4 linked regions of the Homo sapiens genome follow. The protein of the gene in region 1 purifies or fractionates together with the protein of each later gene. This does not show direct contact. Each region holds a gene or a part of one and is shown on either strand. Other genes may lie near its edges.

Region 1 (3,500 bases):
GAGGTTAAGCAACTTGCCTGAAGTTACACAGCTAGTGAGTGGCAGAGCCAGGAGTCAAACCCAGGAAGCTGGCTCTGCAGGCCCCACTCTCCTAATAACAGTACCTGCTGAACACAGGATTCAAGAAGACAAGCTGGGAAGGCACTTAGCAAGGGTGCAACGCAGCAAGCACACAGTTCACATTAGCTGTTGCTACGATTTTTAGGACAAACATTTATTTTGCTATTATCCTATCTTCTTCTACCATTCTGCTGACCGCTGTCTCTTCTTTCTCTGGGGTCAGAACTGGGGAGTCAAAGGCCAAAGGATTAGTGAGACAGCCCCACGGAGGACAGGAGTCTCAGAACTTAGCTTTGTTGGCCAGGCACAGTGGCTCACGCCTGTAATCCCAGCACTTTGGGAGGCCGAGGCGGGCGGATCACTTGAGGCCAGGAGTTTGAGACCAGTCTGGCCAACATGGAGAAACCCTGTCTCTACTAAAAATACAAAAATTAGCCAGGTGTGATAGTGCACATCTGTAATCCCAGCTACTCGGGAGGCTGAGGCATGAGAATTGCTTGAGCCTGGGAGGCCAAGGTTGCAGTGAGCTGAGATTGCACCACTACACTCTAGCCTGGGCAACAGAGTGAGACTGTTTAAAAAAAAAAAAAAAAAGAACCTAGCTTTGTCCCCATCCCTTCTCTCGGTGGCTGCCAGGAGCAAGGAGGTGAGGGTGGAGCCCTCGACCACGGAGTCTAGAAGACTGCGAGTGTCCTGGGCAGGGATGGGCATGTGGTTTTTCCAGGCTTTGTCTCACCCCAGGCTTCTACAAACCAGGGCAGGGATTTGGGGCTCCCAATTCTATCCTGAGAAGCTGGGGTGGCTGTAGCTGCTGCGCAAAGACAGCTGGTTGTGGCTGACAAGCAGAGGGGAGGTGCCACCAGGGCAGGTCTCAGCTCTCAGGCACCATTTCCAACCACTGCCAGGTGTGGCCCAGGTGCGAATATGTGTGGGGGTGTGGCTCTCGTCCCTGTGTGCTGGGGTAACACTGGACTGTGTACATGGCACGCCGACTGTGCCTGGGTTTGGCAGGGGAAATGGGGTATATATGCGACAATGCCTGGGTCCTAGTGAGGGAGAGTGTGTGTGTGTGACACTGTCAGCTGGCGTCTTGTTTGGGTGTGACTGTGTATGTGGGTGCATGTGTAATGAGTGTCAAGGGTTAGCTGTGCCTGTGTGTGTTACTGTGTATCTGGGGATGCATGGCAGGGTTTCCAACCTTGGCACTACTGACATTTGGGGCTGGATCATTCTTTGTGGTCGGCGAGGGTTGAGGGGTTCCATTGTAGGGGACTGAGCAGCATCCTGGGTCTCCACTCACTAAATAGCACCCCCTCCACAAGTGTGACAACCAAAAATGATTCCAGGTTGGGCATGGTGGCTCATGGCTCCCAGCACCTTGGGAGGCCGAGGCGGGAGGATCACCTGAGCCCAGGAATTCAAAACCAGCCTGGGCAACAAAGCCAGACTTCATCTTTACTAAAAATTTAAAAATTAGCTGGGTATGGTGGTGCTCGGCTGTAGTCCCAGCTACTTGGGAGGGTGAAGCGGGAGAACTGCTTGAGCCCAGGAATTCAAGACCAGCCTGGGCAACATAACCAGACTCTGTCTCTACAAAAAAATTTAAAAATTAGCCAGGTGTGGTGGCATGCACCTGTATTCCCTGCTACTCAGGAGGCTGAGATGGGTAGATCGTTTGAGCTTGGGAGGTCAGGGCTGCAGTGAGCCGAGATCGCACCACTGTGCTCCAGCCTGGGCTACAGATGACAGTCTGTCTCTAAAAAAAAAAAATGTTTCCAGACATTTCCCAATGGGTGAAATCACTCCTGGTGGGTGACACTGGGTTAGGGAGTGTGTGGGGTGTTTTGTGTGTCTGAGAGCGTGTTATTGCATGCATGTGCATGTACCTGTGTGCTTGGTGGCATGTGCGGGTGTATCGGTGCTCATGTGTGTGTTTTGGGCACTGACATTATGACTGAGTGTGTGTGCTGTGTGTTTCTAGCTGTGCCTGTGGGGCTGCATTTGACGGTGGCAGAGCCTGTGTCTGTGCTGTGTGCTTCATGGCATGTGATCGTGTGACTGCGCGTGTCCCGTGTGTCTGCACCCACATGCACGTCCCTGAGTGTGTAATGCCGCATCGATGTGTTCGGGTGTGGCCGGGTGCCTCAAGGTGTCTGTGAGTGAGGGCAAGATTCTTTGTATGGGGACGCCTGTGTCTGTTTGATTGAGGGAGGTGCAGCATGCCAGTGTGTGTCAGCGTGATTCTTTGTGCCCGCATGTGCCAGTGAGAGTGTGTGACTTTGTGTGAGATGGACCCGGAATAAACCCCCCCCCAACTCCCCAAGATGATTCGACCGAAGCCGATATTTGGACGGAACCACCTGGATAATTTGGAACCCATCCCTAGCTCCTGCCTGCCTTGGACTAAAAGGCCCAGGGGGGTCGGGTGCACCTCCATGCTGTCCTTTCCTCCAGCTTGGCTCACACAGATTCAGGTGGGGACAGACAGATCCCCGCTCTTGCCCGATCTGTGCCAGGAAGGCTGGCACTGAGCTTCAGCTGAGGGGGCAGGGTCCTTGGCGATGGTGGTGGGCACTGCCCCCTGCCCACTGCTGGCCACCACCCCCGGCTCCCCTCAGGGTGGGGCCCAGTGGGGGGAGAGCTCCCCAGTGCAACCCCGGCTTCCGATTGGCTGCAGAGCGCCGCAGTGCCCGCTACCCGCCTCCCCTCCCTGGCTGGCGCAGCCACATCGGTAGTGGTGGCAAACGCAACTTGGAGTTCTGGGCACAGCTGCGCCTCACAGAGGCCTGCCAGCCCCACCAGAAGCCAGACACCCCAGCTCCGTGCCCCCGACCCCTCCCTGCCCGCCCGCCCCGCCGGGCAGCTCAGTCACCCTGCCCATTGCCTCCCTCTGGCTGCCAGGCCCTGTCCACCCTGTTCCCTCACCCGCCAGGCCTGTGCCCCCCTGGCCAAGCCCACTCAGGGGGCCCAGGCCCCTGCACGAGGCCACTCCCGCCCTCAGAGGGGCTCCTCGGGAGGGGGGAGGTGGTGAGGAAGGGGGGGTTGGGGAGCTAGCCCTTCTTCCTTTAGTGAACGCGCCCAGAGCTGGAGCCAAAAATCGAGGAGGAGAGATATTCAGACGGAGCCAAGACGCGTTTGGCAGGAGGAGAGAGAGAGGGAGAGAGGGAGCGGGAGGAGGGGAGGAGGGGAGGAGAGAGGGAGGAAAGAGAGAGAGAGAAAGGGGGAAAGAAGGGGGGACCTCAGTTTCCAAATCCGCGCCCTCAGAGCCTCGGAGGGATGGCGGGTGGCCCAGGGGTGTGGGGCCCAGGGCCTGCCTGGCTGTGGGGGCAGCGGGGATAGTGGGCTCAGGCCCACGGAGACAGCCGGACACCCAGCTGGCCAGGCTAGAACGGACACAGGCAGAAGCCAAGATCAATGTGCGCCGGGCAGACAGAGGGAGG
Region 2 (3,500 bases), on another chromosome or scaffold:
GGGAAAGGAGGGGCAGGCGGCAGGGAGTGAGGAGGAGGGGTAGGTTACTGTCAGGGTGAGCGGGGTTTCCTGGGTCAGCCTCTTCCTCAGCTGACGGCTGTGGAAAGCCAGCACTCCTGCCTCCTGGACAGACCTCGCACCAGGTCCCGGGCACTTGCGGGTGGGCGTGCTCAATGGCAGAACACGTGGGGCTGAGCCCTGTGAGAGGTGGGACCCAGAGAGGGGGCTGGGGCCGAATGGGTGTAAAGGTGGCAGGTGACGCCAGGCCTGTGCCAGCTTCTGGGTATTTTGATTTTTGGGCCTTCAGAGGCATCGCAGAGATTCGAAGTGAAAACCCGATCCTTGTGCAGCCTCCCAACAGCCAAGGCAGGGTGGCACCCGAGGAACACCTGTCCCTGGTACCCTCGGGAAGTGGCTGCTTGGTGGCCAGTGACATTTTGGAGGTCACCCCACCACCCCAGGTGTCTGATCTGCATTCTCATTCTCTCTGCAGCTGCTTACCGCAATCTCGGTCAGAATTTGTGGGGGCCCCACAGATATGGGTGCCTGGCGGGGGTCCGGGTGCGGACAGTGGTCTCGGGCTCGTGTGCTGCACACAGCCTCCTCATCACCACGGAAGGGAAGCTGTGGAGCTGGGGTGAGTACCGTGCGGGTGCTGGGCACTGGGGACCACTGTCACCAGCTGTCCCCACACAGCACGTTCTTCTGTTTGCCTGGAAAAGAGACTCGCGTCTTATAAGGCTGGGCTCCTTCGTTCACAGCCCATGTCTTTTTTCCTAATTCCCAGCTCGTCTCTTGTCTACACGCTACATGCAGATCCCCTTCCCCCCTGACATTTTTTGCCCATACGCAGCCCCTACTTCTTTGATTCCTTGTGTTTACACAAGGAACATTTTCCTGAATCTTCTGCCCGAAGCTTGATCTTTTCTGATACTGAGGTGTGTGAGTGTGTTAGGCAGGCTGTCCTTCCAGCAGACAGTTTCCTTCCTCTTTGAGGCACGATATGACATGAGACCTCTGTTGCTGCCACTTGAAATGCCACTGGCTTTTCTACCTCCCGCCTCATGTCATAGGATGCTGCGTCCCTGCCGCCATGGCCCTCGTGTCTGAGGTCTGCCCAAGTCTGGTCTGCAGGCTTGGCAGCTCACTGTCCGTGTTGTCTGCTTCTTAGGATATTTCCCCAGATACTTCAGTTTGCTTTTTTGGAGTTGTTCGGCTTTCCCTTCTGTTTTTCCTCACCTGGGCACTCGGGATGGGTTCCAGTTCTTCTGTTAGCCTCTGTCCACGGCACTGTCCTCTGCAGCCGGCCGGCCCATTCCTGCCCGTGTCCTCTTCCAGATCATTCCAATCATAGGGTATGGGCTAAGGCTCATTTTATCCCCAGCCCTTTTGGTGACTCCCGGCCTCTGCCTCCAGCGGGGCATATTGGCGTTTGTCCCCACCCTTTGTCGCTGGTCCTCTGGCTAGCTTTTAGTCCATATGACTGCATTTTTATTTTGGGCTGTTTGAACCGTTTTTTGTGATTTCATGAGCTGCTGTACCAAAGTCCAAATATATTAACATCTGTTGTCTTCCCTGCACATGGCTAATTTTGTAATTCTGTTGAAAAAAGCTAAAGTGTGTCTGGCCCAAATTTATACTTTATAGTCTCTTGATGACATGCTGACATTGCCACAGTTTTTGTTTTCTCCCGGTTGGCATAGATGTGTGTCCCTTCCCCCAGAGCACCCCTCCTACTTTGTGTTCCAACACTGAACACAGCCTTTTATGTCAGTGTTCCAAACTTAAAATACCTCAGTTCTGATCTCTCGCTGAGCTTCACTTGCGTGGTGGCTCTGAAAGCGCCCTCAGTTCTGACCCTGTGGGCAGGGACAATGTATGTCCCGCCATCAAGACGTGTGATCCCCGAGCAGACAGTGCAGTTGGTGAGGACAGGGTTGGAAGGTGTCACAGGCCCACTGCTCGCCACTCTAGAAGGCAGGGGGCGGCGTCTGGTGTGAGTAGAGTACCACGGGAGGGTGGCTGACGCATTGCTCATGTGGGGTCTCCATCTGTGGCCCGCTCACCCTGTCCTGCCGCATCTCAGTCCACTGAGACTTGCACTTGTTGCTCTGTATTCACATGCCTTTCACATGAACTTGGGCAGCTCCCATTGGAAGCTGGTGTATCTGCCTCTCCTGCTCGAGTGCCAGTGCTGGCCCTTCAGCCCGCCGTTCTTTAATTAGAGCGAGTCAGAGGCTGGTTTCCCTTCGTCGCAATTCCTTCTGTAGTCAGAGGCTGCTCCTGCAAGCCTTCTCCAGGACAGCTGGAACTCATCTTAATGGCTCTGCTGTCTGCCTTTATCACAACCTAAGGGTGAAAAGTTCATTGCTGGAGAAGGTTGCAAAACCCCCTAGAATTGCCCTGACTTCTCACCACTGTAAGATCTCCGTCAGTTTCCCCACGTCAGGTTACATGTGTGGTTTTTCTCTTATCGGGAGGGATCCGAGAGTGGCCGGTTGAATTTTTGTTTTGGAACTTGGTAGTTTGTGTTGAAACCTAGATGCGGTGTAGGGGCTCCCAGCCCTCCTTTTGGCCCACCCAACTTCCACGTCTGTTTGGAGTTGAATTTGGTTCTGCAGAGGACTTGGGGGTAGGGGTTGGCCCTCAGGCCTGCCTTCCGCTGGAATTCACAGATACAGGGCCTTGGTCGCACCTGCAGCAGTCCTGGAGGTGGGGCTGGGCGTGTTGTGTTGAGGGTGGATCTGTGCTTTGTCACCAGGGTTCCTGTGGCTGAGAGTCCTTGAGGGGCGATCCCTAGGGGTGGGATTGGCACTGTTATGTGAGCACCATTTACAGGGTAGAAAAAGGAAGAGAAATATTGGGCAGACACCAAATGGTCCTCAGTGGATGCCCAGAGCACCAAAGTGATTAAACTCTGGTGAGCCAGGTGTCAAAATGGGGTGCTGTCTTAAAATACATCTCAGAGGGTAGGGACGGGGTGGTTGTCTTGCAGGCACTCTAAGTGGGAACGGCGTGTTTCTGCGAGCATGCCCGCCTGTGCATGGTGTCCCTACCACACTGAGCCTCTCATTTCCCTTTGTAGCAGAGACGTGGGAGGTGTGCACGGGTGGTCCCGCTGCTGCCCCAGGGAAGGAGGTCCGGGGAGCTGCAGCAGGCGCCATTCCAGCGGGCAGAGGGCCGGGGCGTTCTTTGCTCTGGATCTTGGCTGTTGGGAATTTGGAGGGTACCTTCCAGAGACAGATGGGCATCATTTGAGAGTGTGTTTGTACTCGCCTTCTCCTGGTGGTGCCGCCTGGACCACCCTCTCTCTTTTCTACTTTCTCTCATGTGATCTGCAGGTCGAAATGAGAAGGGGCAGCTGGGACATGGTGACACCAAGAGAGTAGAAGCCCCTAGACTCATCGAGGGTCTTAGCCACGAAGTGATTGTGTCTGCAGCATGTGGGCGGAACCACACCTTGGCCTTGACGGGTAAGGAGGTGGCTGCTGGTGTCTCCT
Region 3 (3,500 bases), on another chromosome or scaffold:
CGCAGAGGCCGTGGCTCTGCTGCAAAAGGAGATGGGGGAAATCTAAGTAGCGACCTACGGCATTGAGGCCAGGGAGGTCCATGGGAGGGAGGACTGCCTTGAAGGAGGATCACCCGCCAGCCCCCAGAACAAAGCTCGCATTAATCATCCAAAGACATTCAATTTCGGTTAACATCCTCATAAAACACTGCATTTTCTTGGTGCAAATTGATGCTGTTCAAAACATCTCCCTGCTCTGTTTGAGTCTAAATTTCAGGGTGTTTCAAACATGTCTGATGAAATGACCTCTCAATAGCTCTGTTGATGTGGCACATTGATCCCCTGGTCTTAAACAGAAAAGGAACTTTCTTTTTTGTTTTTTTATTTGAGGCAGGTTCTCACTCTGTTGCCCAGACTGGAGTGCAGTGGCTCAATCATGGCTCACTGCAGCCTCCACCTCCTGGGCTCAAGCCATCCTCCTGCCTTAGCCTCTCAAGTAGCTGGGACCACAGGTACACGCCACCACGCCCAGCTAACCTTTTGATTTTTTTGTAGATCAAAAGATTACAAAATATATGTTGCCCAGGCTGGTCTTGAACTCCTGGACTCAAGCGATCCATCCACCTCAGCCTCCCAAACTGCTGGAATTATAGGCGTGAGCTACTGTGCCCGGCTGGGATTTTTTGAAATTATGAATGTGACTGACATTTTATCTTTTTACGGAGGGTGGGGTAGAAAGGGTGCTTAAATAAAACTTTTGTGTATTTTACTCAAGCCAGGCCTGTTTTACTCATAATGCTAAACAAATCACTAATGGACCGTGAACAATGTAGGGAAGGTGGCCATGGGACACGCCCTCTTCTGCGGGGTGGGAAGAGGGGAGGTGTCATCTGTGATGTGTTCTCCCTACAGAACCAGCTTTGCATGAGGATCGAGCCCAGTCAACGTTGCTGCTATGGGGCTGGAGGGGACTTAAGGGCTCCTCCCAAAAGTGAGACCAGCACCCAAGGCCAATTGGACCCGCGGCCACTAAGCATACGGAGACGCTATACATCATGTAATGCAATTCCCTCTGATACGATCTCTAGTATTGAAATACTATAGGGTTTCCTAAGTATGGAGTGCTGAGTGCGTTTCAAAGGCCAGATCTCCCAAATCTAACAGCCTTAACTCATGCCGGGCCACCCTTGAGCTCTGGACGTGGCAGAAGCAAAGAGAACTTTACCTGATGTGATGCACAAATGTTTCATCACGCACACAGACACACGCACGCATGCACACACACATGTGCAACTCTGTGACGGGCTCGCACGCTGGCGCCACCCAACGCCAGTCTCTCACCTCTTTGTCTGCCTTGGATGCTACGGAGGGCCAGGATGTTCTGCTCATCGGAGAGGAACTGTTTCATCTTGTGAAATGGCTCCTTGCCACGAACAGTCAGTTTATTCCATGGCTTGGGCCGGGCCAGAATCTCGCTCACGGACCCTTGAGACAGTCCCAACACATAATGTCCGAAAATACGTTGTCCGATATTGTGCTTAATCAGCTGCTCTTTGACCTGCCGGGCGATTTCTGCAGTGTCCATCTCCTCGCCCTCGGAGACGCTCCCAGCACTTTCTGACTGGCTGGGGGATGGGGCCATGCCATTGACATCTGGGCTTTGTTGTAATGGACTTTGGGAAGATATGGAGTTTGTGCTGTATGGACCTGTTGAAAAAATCATGCTTGTGCTTCCGGCTTCCTGCATAGCCTTGGAGTAGAAGGACTGCATTAGCTGCCGCTGGAGAAGAGAGTTTAGTGCAAATTTTCCTGTAGAAGCCAGGGGTAGGCTGGGGCTTGCCAGGGATGAGCTGAAAAAGTCTTGACTTAACCCCGCTGGTGAGAACTGGTGTGTACCATTAGTATTGGAAGCCTGCTCCCCCGGGTTGCGGGGCAACTGAGAAGGAGGGGGGGCCGGCAAAGATCCCGGGCGCCGACTTTCAGGCTGGTCTTTCCCTTTCCTCCTGGCTGACCCTACAAGGAAGGGCAAACAGAATGCATTATGGGGGATTCCAAAGGGGGAAAAAAAAACCAAGACCAAAATGCAAAAGTTTGCCCCCGCAAAAGGGAAAACAAAAAAAAGTGCAGGTTTTTTTTACAAGGGCCAATGAGGTGGGTTGGTTTGTTTTCCGATTAAATTTGTAAGTCAGCCAAACGAGGCTTCCCAAAACAAGCAACATGCATTCATGTTTGCGCCTTTCTTGTACGTTGCAGCCTGGAGAGTCCCCTTGACATAGACTCAAACTCCTAGCGTGACAAGGAGCTGGTGACACACACAGGGAAGAGTTGACGGGTCGCGGGCCTCTTACTGGGCCCGCTGGCCCCGGCCGGAGGAGCAGCAAACACTGACATTTTAGGACCAATGGATTCGCTCGCACCTCTTGCTCTGAGGCGATGCACCGTACCGAGCCCCCTCGATGTGGAGGCGCGCGCCCGTTTTGAGAATGCAATACCATTAGAGCCCGAGACACCTGTACGCGTTTTACCAGCTGCCCAAACCAGAAGCACAGTCAAGTGACGCCACCATTTGGGGGATGAGCCAAGAAAGGCTAAGGATGGGGGACGCGTCCCCAGGGGAAACCTGACCAAGGAAGAAAAACCTCTACTGGACCCGGCAGGCCCGGGGCTGTCCCTGAAAACACCACCAGAGCGAGGCTGGGTTCACACTGCCCCTGGCCTCTGTGCAGCACAACCAGACACAGATCAGAAAGGCCGACGTCCTCCGAGCTGTCCCTCCCGGGGATTCCAGCCGCACTGCCCCTAACTGACCTCCGCAGAGCCTGTGCGGCTGGCCCGTCTCGACATCCAGCTTTAAGCAGGGCGGGGAAGGGAAGGGAGGAGCGGTGAGGAGGAGGGCACCCAACACGCGTTAGTCAAAGGTTCTCGTCAACCGGCGCTTCTCTGGCCATGCATCTGTCCAGACTCACGATTCACCTTCCTCGTCCTCGACCGACCCCTGGAAGCGAACCAACCACCGCACACGCGCGAAGCCCGGCCAACCTACCGCTCAGGTCGCTGTTGGAGATGCGCAGCGCGGCGTTCTCGGACTGCAGCGAGCGGTTCTTCTCCAGCAACAGCACCTCCAGGGGCTTGGCCGCATCCTAGAAGGGGCAGAGCGGGGGTCTCACTGCGGGGCCGGCCACTCACCCGCTCCCGGGGCCACCAGGCCTGGAGCCCTGCCTCCCTCCATCTGTCCGCGTTCCCACCCAGCTCTCGATCTGATTAGGAAGTGGGCTGCGGACAGCTGATTTCCCCCCAAGTCGTTTAACACACGTGGAAAACAAGTTCCCTTTAGAAAGAATGGATTCTAGTTGAAGTCATTTTCCTTCTTAGACTTCCACAGCTCCTAAAAAAATTAATTATTCTCTCATCTGTTCTCAAACTCAAGCGACCTGAGCCCGTGCCTCATTTGGCCATAAGACTGGCTGCCAAGCCACAAACGTCTGTCCGAACGTTACTGTAAAGGGAACTTTTCTTTTTTT
Region 4 (3,500 bases), about 37 Mb from region 1:
TCAACCCCCGGCGCTTGCCTGACCTGGTCTCCAGCTGCCGCTCCCGTCCGGCCCTCTCGCCACTGGGGGACATCGACTTCTGCCCACCCAACCCAGGACCCGATGGCCCCCGGCGCCGTGGCCGCAAGCCCACGAAGGCGAAACGTGATGGGCCACCCCGGCCACGGGGGAGGCCCCGGATCCGCCCCCTGGAGGTCCCGACCACTGCGGGGCCCGCCTCGGCCTCCACGCCCACCGATGGCGCCAAGAAACCCCGGGGCCGGGGCCGAGGCCGGGGTCGAAAGGCTGAGGAGGCAGGGGGCACCCGGTTGGAGCCCCTGAAGCCACTTAAGGTGAGGGGAAATGGGGTCTTGTAGGGGATAGGGGAGGAGGAGCTGTGTCCGATGTTTGAGTCTTTTTTTTTTTTTTTTGAGACAGAGTCTCGCTCTGTCGTCCAGGCTGGAGTGCAGTGGCACGATCTCGGTTCACTGCAAGCTCCGCCTCCCGGGTTCACGCCATTCTCCTGCCTCAGCCTCCCGAGTAGCTGGGACTACAGTTGCCCGCCACCACGCCCGGCTAGTTTTTTTGTATTTTTAGTAGAGACGGGGTTTCACCGTATTAGTCAGGATGGTCTCGATCTCCTGGCCTCGTGATCCACCCGCCTCGGCCTCCCAAAGTGCTGGGATTACAGACCTGAGCCACCGCGCCCGGCCTCCCGATGTTTTGAGTCTTAAAGGACAGGTTTATGGCCGCACCTTGGCATTTTTGGGGCAGGGGGATAATAAGGTTTACATTTCTAAAATCTGTGAGGAAGTTAGCGTGAGGAATTTCAGGGTCTCACTGACAGAAAGACCTAAGAATTGAAATTCTGAATCTAGGCTGGGCAGTGTGGTTCATGCCTGTAATCCCAGCGCTTTGGGAGACTGAGGCGGGAGGATCTCTTGAACCCAGATGTTCGAGACCAGCCTGGTCAGCGTAGTGAGACCCTGGTCTCTATTAAAAACACAAAAATTTAGCCAGGTGTGGCTGCGTGTACCTACAGTCCCAGCTACTCAAGAGGTTGAGGTGGGAGGATCTCTTGAGCCCAGGAGTTCAAGGCTGCAGGGAGCTATGATTGCATCACTGTGGCCTGGGCCACAGAGTGAGACCCTGTCTCAAGAGATAAAGGAAATTCTGGGTTTAGGGAGAGAGGCAGGAGGTTGGAGCTTACGCTGGTTTGAAACTCCTGACCTCAAGTGATTTGCCTGCCTCAGTCTCCCAAGGTGCTGGGATTACAGGCACGAGCCACCTCACCCGGTCTGCTTGCTTTTAGTTTCTATATCCCAAAGGATGGGCATTCAGGGATCCTACATTCCTGGGTCTCATGGGAAGCGGGTCTAGGGACCTGAACTGGGCTGTAAGTGAAGAGGCTCAGTGAGTCCAAGTTCCTGGTCTTCTGAGGGAGGAACTCCAGTCTTGTCCTCCTAGAATCTAAGACAAGGGGTCTGCAGGTTTGAATTCTATAAATTCACAGGCTGAGCACCTGTAAATTTGGATTTTTGGGGGCTGAGGGAGGATGGGACTGGGGGCCCAGGCTACTGGGCCCTCACGGCCCGCCACTCCCATGTCTAGATCAAGCTGTCTGTGCCCAAGGCTGGCGAGGGTCTGGGAACCTCATCGGGTGATGCCATATCAGGCACTGACCACAACAGCCTGGACTCGAGCCTGACTCGGGAGAAGATCGAGGCCAAGATTAAGGAGGTGGAGGAGAAGCAGCCGGAGATGAAGTCGGGTTTCATGGCCTCCTTCTTGGACTTCCTCAAGTCAGGCAAGCGCCACCCACCACTCTACCAGGCGGGCCTGACGCCTCCGCTCAGCCCTCCCAAGAGTGTGCCACCCTCTGTGCCAGCCCGAGGCCTGCAGCCCCAGCCCCCTGCCACCCCTGCTGTGCCACATCCCCCACCTTCCGGAGCCTTTGGGCTTGGGGGCGCCCTGGAGGCTGCAGAGAGTGAGGGTCTGGGGCTTGGCTGCCCTTCACCCTGCAAGCGGCTTGATGAGGAGCTGAAGCGGAACCTCGAGACGCTGCCCTCCTTCTCCTCGGATGAGGAAGACTCTGTCGCCAAGAACCGAGACCTGCAGGAGAGCATCTCCTCCGCCATCTCTGCCCTCGATGACCCACCCCTTGCTGGGCCAAAAGACACTTCCACCCCAGATGGGCCGCCCTTGGCCCCCGCGGCTGCAGTTCCAGGGCCACCCCCTCTTCCGGGGCTCCCCAGTGCCAACAGCAATGGCACTCCCGGTGAGCTCTGGGCAGGTGGTCTGGGAGTAGAGCTTAAAGGTTATTATGATCACTAGGTAACAGTTGTGCAGGTTACGCACTGTTTAAGAGACACCATTCACATACATGGTGTAAGCTTGCGTGTTTATGAAGGGACTTTCCTGATTACACAAGCATTTTGAGGAAGGTCTATCTTTTTCTAATTCACTCAGAGGTGCTAAGTGGACTAGGAGGGGCCCCAAGGCAGACACTGGAGAATGCAGGGAGACAGGGCAGGTGATAAGTTACAGGGACAGGACAGGGGCTACTCAGGTTCTGAATGGTGGGAGGTGTGGGAACTGAGGAGGGCTCTGAGTCAACTGTGTGTGAAGGTACAGAAAGATGTCTGGGGGCAGAGAAAGACTTGGGGATGGGGGTGGGCGGTGGAAGGGAAGGCTAGGGGCATAGGAAGGGTTTAGGTTGTGCTCTGGTTTTGGACACAGTTTAAGGAGTGTAATGTCAGAAACAGAGGCATTGGGAAATGAGAGGTGGGAGCTTACAGGAGGGCACAGAGGGGAGTGTTCAAAAAAAAAAAAAAACCATGACAGGCCGGGCATGGTGGACCACACCTGTAATCCTAGCACACTTTGGGAGGCTGAGACAGGAGGATCGCTTGAGCCCAGGAGGTTGAGGCTGCAGTGAGCCATGATTGAGCCACTGTACTCCAGCCTGGGTGACAGAGCAAGACCCTGTCTTAAACAAAAAACCCCAAAAACAAAACAAAAAGACCCTATAACGTTCTTTTTTTTTTTTCTTGAGACAGGGTCTCTCTATGTCACCCAGGCTGGAGTGTGGAGTGCAGTGGTGCGATCTTGGCTCACTGCAACCTCTGCCTTCCGCTCACCGCAACCTCTGCCTTCCAGGTTCAAGTGATTCTCCTGCCTCAGCCTCCCGAGTAGCTGGGACTACAGGCGCGCACCACCATGCCCAGCTAATTTTTGTATTTTTAGTAGAGACGGGGTTTCACCATGTTGGCCAGACTGGTCTCGAACTCCTGACCTCAAGTGATCCACCCACCTCAGCCTCCCAAAGTGCTGGGATTACAGGCATGAGCCACCATGCCTGCCCTCTGTGAGGTTCTTAAAAAGCCTGAAGAAGGGAGCTGGCAGACAGGGGAGAGGTTAGCAGTCTGCATACTGGTGAGCAGGCCAAGGAAAGGACAAAGATGGTCCTGGAGGGAGGAGGATGAGGCCTTGGAGGAAGAGGAGGTGAGGAAGTAGAGTTA

The links.
Region 2: the proteins of NFIX (region 1) and RCC2 purify together in Homo sapiens (affinity purification with mass spectrometry, with the first as the bait; one large-scale study listed by BioGRID). This does not show direct contact.
Region 3: the proteins of NFIX (region 1) and CUX1 purify together in Homo sapiens (affinity purification with mass spectrometry, with the first as the bait; one large-scale study listed by BioGRID). This does not show direct contact.
Region 4: the proteins of NFIX (region 1) and PRR12 purify together in Homo sapiens (affinity purification with mass spectrometry, with the first as the bait; one large-scale study listed by BioGRID). This does not show direct contact.

Annotation. Positions count from the first base shown.
Region 1 is NC_000019.10:13,001,975-13,005,474, reverse strand, and holds part of NFIX (nuclear factor 1 X-type), read right to left. Parts: intron 1-3,500.
Region 2 is NC_000001.11:17,422,678-17,426,177, reverse strand, and holds part of RCC2 (protein RCC2), read left to right. Parts: intron 1-493; coding exon 494-637; intron 638-3,341; coding exon 3,342-3,473; intron 3,474-3,500. UniProt on the Homo sapiens protein: Multifunctional protein that may affect its functions by regulating the activity of small GTPases, such as RAC1 and RALA. Required for normal progress through the cell cycle, both during interphase and during mitosis.
Region 3 is NC_000007.14:102,195,126-102,198,625, reverse strand, and holds part of CUX1 (Homeobox protein cut-like 1), read right to left. Parts: intron 3,120-3,500; coding exon 3,023-3,119; intron 1,993-3,022; coding exon 1,321-1,992; intron 1-1,320. UniProt on the Homo sapiens protein: May be involved in intra-Golgi retrograde transport.
Region 4 is NC_000019.10:49,597,682-49,601,181, forward strand, and holds part of PRR12 (proline-rich protein 12), read left to right. Parts: coding exon 1-332; intron 333-1,590; coding exon 1,591-2,257; intron 2,258-3,500.